2 separate regions of the Homo sapiens genome follow, and region 1 is reported to be linked to region 2. Evidence: microRNA targets listed by miRTarBase, many of them from high-throughput screens and not tested one by one. Region 2 holds a microRNA gene; the other region holds the end of a gene's coding sequence.
What was found. Region 2 holds the annotated microRNA hsa-miR-6840-3p (GCCCAGGACUUUGUGCGGGGUG, at 1,295-1,316, opposite strand). A microRNA usually pairs through its seed, bases 2 to 8, with sites in the 3' UTR of a target mRNA and lowers its output. Matches are read on the target gene's strand: a 7mer-m8 pairs with bases 2 to 8, a 7mer-A1 pairs with bases 2 to 7 and ends in A, and an 8mer does both.

Region 1 (3,000 bases), not on the chromosome of region 2:
GAAATGTTTTCCATTTGGGTAAGATTTATTTTTATTATTTAATCTGTGGTTTTCTGAGTAAAACCTCAGAAAGTTGTTTTTTTAAGAAACAGCAGGCTGACATACAGAAATGGAAAAGAAGGGAAAAATTACTATTAGTATTTGAACTTTTATTGCTTGAGACTTAATGCAATTATCTTTCTTGCCTACAGATTCCAGGCTTTCCTGATCGGAAAAGATTTGGGGCAGGAACATTAAAGAGCCTTCATTATGACTGAATTACACTCATCCTTTGGAAGAGTGAGCAAGCAGTGGCAGTTTTTCACAGCTCATCTTGCTGTGTTCAATTATTACCATCACAGCCTTTTAACAAAATCATCTTAAAATGCTACCCTTCAGCCTTACCCTTTAATGGAAAAATGAAAGGAAGTGACAATACGGGAGGTCCAAACTTTGTCCCTGTTCTCTGTGTTCCTTACCTTTCTGTCCCTGTGTATAGATTATGTAAAAGCCTTGTGTAAATATGAGATGTTGTCAAAATGATGCAGTAAATGAGCAATGACAGTGTACTGCAGAGAAAATTTACTCTTGCCTAGAACTGGAGGGTTTTTATGGGTCTGTAATTTTCCCACACTCATTGCTGAAAGCTTAATTAAGTACTTCAAAAACGTATCTCCATTGTTTTACCTTCTTGAGGGGAACGGTCTTGTTAACCAGCCCTGAGTTGTCTACCCCAAACAATCTCTGTCATTTTCAAAGATGCAAAATGGTGTTATTTAATTGTCTCCACCATTGTCACACACAGGAATGCCTAATAATAGCAACCCTTGTCTCCCTCTTCTCTCCTTTGCAAATGGCTCAGTGACTGGAAGAGGCGGACTAATAGCCAGAGTTAAATATAAATACAAATTAATAATACATAGAGAACAGCAATACCAGAAAAAAAGAATTCTGGTAAAATGATGTGAAAAATTGACAGCTCCCTCACTCTTAAGGTTGCTGCTATATACAGTCTAGGTTTTCTGTTTGGAAATAGGTAGGGTAAAATCTAAGACCTGCACAAGGGCAGTGAGAGACATTTACAGCCTCCTCTCTATTTGTTTTTTTAAGGAAAAGTCAACTCCTGAAATGTCCCTTAGCTATAATCAGAAAACTAAGAATATTATTCTGTGTCAACAATGTATTTATGGAGAGAAGTAAAAATAAGTTCCACAGCAACACATTTACATGAATTATGAACTAGGATTCTTGGATTTCATAATCACTCCAAAGCTTTTTGGGGATGGTGTGTGTGTGTGTGTGTGTCCGTAATTGTTCATCATTACTTTTTTTAACCTATCTTTTTGCTTGCTTAATCTTCTCTGCCCCAGTTCTTCCTGAGTATATGAATTTGATTTCTAAAAACAATTTATTCAACACTCTATCACCCGTATTCTCTCTCTGGCTCTGCTGCAGGTCTCTGCACTCCTGATTTTGCTCCATACTTTTAAATAACAATAATAAATATACAGTTTTCATTTCTCATTTAAAAAATAGGTGGAAAACACCAAATTCACTTTCTGTTCCATTTTAATTAGGTTTCAGAAGTATCTTGGAAATCAAGGTATGCTGCAAGAGGATATTAAAATAAGAATGTTAGAGAGTCCTTTTAGAAAGGCAGTCTTGGGAATTTGGAAAAGGATTTTTAAAGCAGCTTTCATCAGCTAGACTGTTCTCCAGCCTTTCTTTACTTCCTCTTTGAAAGGACATAGCCCTGGTTTCTTTTTGACACAAAGGAAAGCTATGCAAATCATGATCTGTATGTAGAATTGGTCACAAGTATGTTGTTGCATAGGCTGTACAGTTGGGAAGTAGAAACCAAATGCTACCCAGAGACCTAACCCAATTAAGCTCTTTGTATTTCTCCTTCAAGAAATAAATCTTCCTTCCTTCTTTCTTCCTCTTTCTTTTAATTTTAAAAAAATTCATCCTGATTTTTTTATTTTCTATCTTATTTAAAAAATAAAAATAGGCCAGGCGCGGTGGCTCACACCTTTAATCCCAACACTTTGGGAGGCGGGTCGATCACTTGATATCAGGAGTTTGAGACCAGCCTGGCCAACATAGGGAAACCCTGTCTCTACTAAAAATACAAAAATTAGCCAGGCCTGGTGGCACGCGCCTGTAATCCCAGCTACTTGGGAGGCTGAGGCAGGAGAATCACTTGAACCTGGGAGGTGGAGGTTGCAGTGAGTCAAGATCGTGTCACTGCACTCCAGCCTAGGTGACAGAGTGAGACTCCAACTAAAAGAAAATAAATAAATAAATATATAAATATATAAATAAATAATAAAAGTAAACTATTGCTGATGACTCCAGGGTCAATCTGGAAAAATTAACAGTATTCCTCAACTCCATTACTTTCTGCAGCCAAGCTTGATTCCTTGAATTATAGTTTTCTAAGAAAAAATAGTTTTTAATAATCTAAGGTAAATTTGTTGCAATTATTAGCAGCAGCATAATAAGGCTTTTTGCGCAAATGAATGTTATTAGCTAGAGTTATTCAAAAAAGAATGAAGCACAATTTTTGCTAGGACTTCTTGAGAACTATTCATAAAAATGCTTTTAGATAATAAACAAGTATAAATGTCAAAATATTTTTTTAAAAGTATAATTGGCCAGGTGCTGGCTCACGCCTATAATCCCAGCACTCTAGGAGACTGAGGCAGGAGGATCACTTGAGCTCGGGAGTTTGAGGCTGCAGTGATTCATGATTGCACCACTGCCTTCCAGCAGCCTGATGACAGAGTGGGACTCCATCTCTTTACATATGTATATCTTACTCTCTTGATGGGACAAGTTGGTAGAAATAAAGATTTTTTTTTTCTGTTGTGATTTCGGTGTCTGACCAATTTTCTGACTCATTGTGAAGGTGACCAGATATGAAGGCATATATATGACTACTCCTCTGTCCCTTAGGTGTATAAGACTTAGCTGGAATCCAACTAAAGATTTGGGCTGGTCTCTCCATCTTAACGTTGA
Region 2 (3,174 bases):
GAGATGGGGTTTTGCCATGTTGGCCAGGGTGGTCTCACACTCATAGGCTCAAGTAATCTGCCCGCCTCAGCCTCCAAAAGTGCTGGGATTACAGGCGTGAGCCACTGTGCCCGGCCTGACTTCAAATCCTGTGTTGAATAGAAGTAGTGAGAGCGGGCATCCTTCTCTTGTTCCTGATCTTGGAGGCAAAGATTTCAGTCTTTCATCTAAAATGACTGAAAGACTTTCAGCCATGGGCCTTGCATGACTGGCCTTTATTTTGTTGCAGTACATTCCTTCTCTTCCTGGTTTGTGGAGTGTTTTACCAGGAAAGGGTGTTCAGGCTGGGCACAGTGGCTCAAGTCACACAAAAGTGTCAAGTCAGCCCTGCCCAAGGGCCCCAGTGCCCATCTTCCTGCTGAGGGGCTGGGCCTCACCTTGGCTGGCTGGGCCCCTCCCACCTGGATCCCTGCAGACCCCACCGCACTCAGCCTCACTTCTCATCCCTTTCTCTGTCCAAGGCCAGCGCAGGCTCTTTCAGGGAGAGGAAAGGCGGGCCTGAGTCTGTGCTCTGCTGCACCCCAGATTCAGTCCTCAGAGAGGAGAAGGAGGAAGCCAGTGGAGGTCACAGGCGCTCAGCCCCCAGCCCAAGCACCAGAGCCCCCAGCTTGTCCTCTGTCCCTCTCCCTCCCTGGCAGGGGCTCCCATGCAGTCCCCAGGCACCACCACAGCCCAGCTGGCCTCTTCCCACCCCAGGCCTGCTCCCTTGGTGCAGGGACCACAGTCTTGCTCAAGGGGTGAGGGGGCTGACGGTCCCCTACACAGAGACTGGTCCCTCTCGAGGCCACCCCTTGACCCCCAGACATGAGACTGGATCTGCAGGGTCCCCTCTGACCTCCCTGCCCTACACAGGAGGGGACAGAGCTTGGAGAAGCCCTGTCCCAGGCCACATGACTTGCAGGGCAGTCCCAGGACTGGAGCCCCCTCTACCTGGATCTCTGGGCCTCAACTTCTGAGTTGCAGGAACTCAGGCATAGGGGAGCCCCAGGAGGTTGTTCCCTCATACAGCCCCTCAGGTCATTCCCTCCACACACCTGAGCCTATGGCTGAACCAGGAAGGTTCCTTGGTGCCAGGGCAGCTGGACTCACCCTGGGTGATGGTGAGGTGGGTCCCCTTGATGGACTGCCACGACAGCCTCCCTGATCTGTATGTCCAGCTGGACTTGGCAGAAGTACACAGACTGGTCCTCCTTCCGCAGGTTCGAGATCCTGAGGAAGCCTCCCTGAGGAAGTGAAGGCTCAGAGCAACAGTGGGCACCCCGCACAAAGTCCTGGGCCCGTCTCTAACAGGGGATCTGCAGGTCTTTGCCCGGGGGTGGTCACTGGAGCTTTGGTGACCCACAGGGCTCCCTCCATAGGAGGCTCTGCCCATCCTCTCCAGAGTAAGGTGGCATCAGCTGAGGGGCCGTGGGGACAGGAAGGCAGGATTTCACCAGAGGAAGTGATAACAATCTTCTTGAGACAGAAGCAGGCAGGGACAGGCCTCCCTTCTCTTGTCAGTCTCTTCCCTGGTCCCAGTAGGCTCCTCTGTGCTTCCCAGGGCCAGTCAGGCCGATCCACCCTCCTTCCCTTCACAGGTCTGAGGAAACAGGCTCCCCATGCTCAGGAAACCCCTCCGTCTGAGCCAGGCCCTATACACCTCATTCTCCTTGTTCAACCCACAGGGAAACTGAGGCACCGGGGCTTTGGACTGAACTGGTCCCACCTGCAAAGGTGGGCCGAAAAGAGGACAAGGGACCCCCTGGCTGTTTGGGCAAGGCCTCAAGAGGGTGGCCCACCCTGCCTGAGGACTTTTTGTTTTTTTTTTTTGAGATGGATTCTCGCTGTGTTGCCCAGGCTGGAGTGCAATGGTGTGATCTTGGCTCACGGTAACCTCTGCTTCCTGGGTTCAAGTAATTCTCCTGCCTCAGCCTTCCAAGTAGCTGGGAATTACAGGTGTGTGCCACCACACCCAGCTAATTTTTATATTTTTAGTAGAGACAGGGTTTCACCATGTTGGCCAGGCTGGTCTCAAACTCCTGGCCTCAAGTGATCTGCCCACCTCAGCCTCCCAAAGTGCTGGGATTATAGGCATGGGATACAACACCCAGCCACTGAGGACTGACTCTTCGTTCCATTCCTGCCTTGCCCGTGGCCCATGGGACCCAGCTAGAAGGTCACCTGCTTACCAGGCTGCCCAAGGAGGGGGCCACATAGAACTTTTAGCCAACAGCCTCTGGGTAGCTCTGGAGGGTACATACTCCCCAGGGGCCTCAGGCCCGGTACCGCCACGTGCATTCTCCTTAGATGCAAGGTGCGTGTTTATGTCACTTTCCGGGCTCTGGACCCAGCTGAACCCCCATGGGAGATTCCTTTTGTGTCAGGATTTCTGCTCTGGAATGGTGTGAGGCCTCCCGGATGGTTCATCCTCCCTCCCCCAACAGCAGTGACAGGGCCTGGGGCTAAGCCTGGGGCTGTGGCTCTCTCTCAGAGGGGGGTTTTGGGAGGCACCGGCCCTGGAGGAGGGCATGATTCCAACATGGGCAGAGTCTAAATCCAGCCCGTTAGCCCAGCAGGTGGCCATGGGAGAGGCATGGGATGCAGTGTTCAGCAGAGGCAGGGAGGGGGCCAGGACCCTGCCCATTTTGAGAACTGCTGCTTGTATGTCCCCACCTTCCCCCAACAACTATCCTCCTTTCCTCACCAGCCACGTCTATGCCTGCCCCAGCCCCTTGCCCCTCCTTGGCACCCACCTTGTTCTTGCTTTCCCCTTGAGATCAGGAATGAGGCACAGATGTCTGCTCTCACTGCCTCCCTTCACGGTACTGGAGTCCTAGCCAGCGCGCTATGCCTGAAGGGAAATACAAGTGCTCTGTGTCTTCTTCAATTCTGTATTGATCTATTTGGCCTCCACCCATCACAGGGCCCATATTATCTATATTTCCTGCATTCTTGGCCTCTTTTTAGTGGGGGACATGGTCTCGCTCTGCCTGTAGGTGGGACTATAGGCACGCACCACAGTTCTCCCCTAATTTTCTTTTTTGCAGAGACGTGGTGTCACTGTTACCCAGGCTGGCCTCAATCTCCCAGGCTCAAGGCATCCTCTCAGTGTGCTGGGATTACACATATGAGCCACAGGGCTGAGCCCCTTGTACA

Region 1: miRTarBase lists RABL3 as a target of hsa-miR-6840-3p. Seed matches in the 3' UTR shown: 7mer-A1 at 2,188-2,194.

The regions. Positions count from the first base shown.
Region 1 is chr3:120,687,080-120,690,079 of GRCh38, reverse strand. It overlaps RABL3 (RAB, member of RAS oncogene family like 3), which reads left to right. Exons shown (of 8, transcript NM_173825.5): 8 at 192-3,000. The coding sequence ends at 257. Among named protein-coding and RNA genes, the nearest start is that of HGD, 6.3 kb to the right of the region's middle.
Region 2 is chr7:100,354,838-100,358,011 of GRCh38, reverse strand. It overlaps MIR6840 (microRNA 6840), which reads right to left and starts at 1,361; the gene lies at 1,291-1,361. STAG3L5P-PVRIG2P-PILRB (STAG3L5P-PVRIG2P-PILRB readthrough) reads right to left here. Exons shown (of 17, transcript NR_036570.1): 12 at 2,772-2,869; 13 at 1,129-1,262.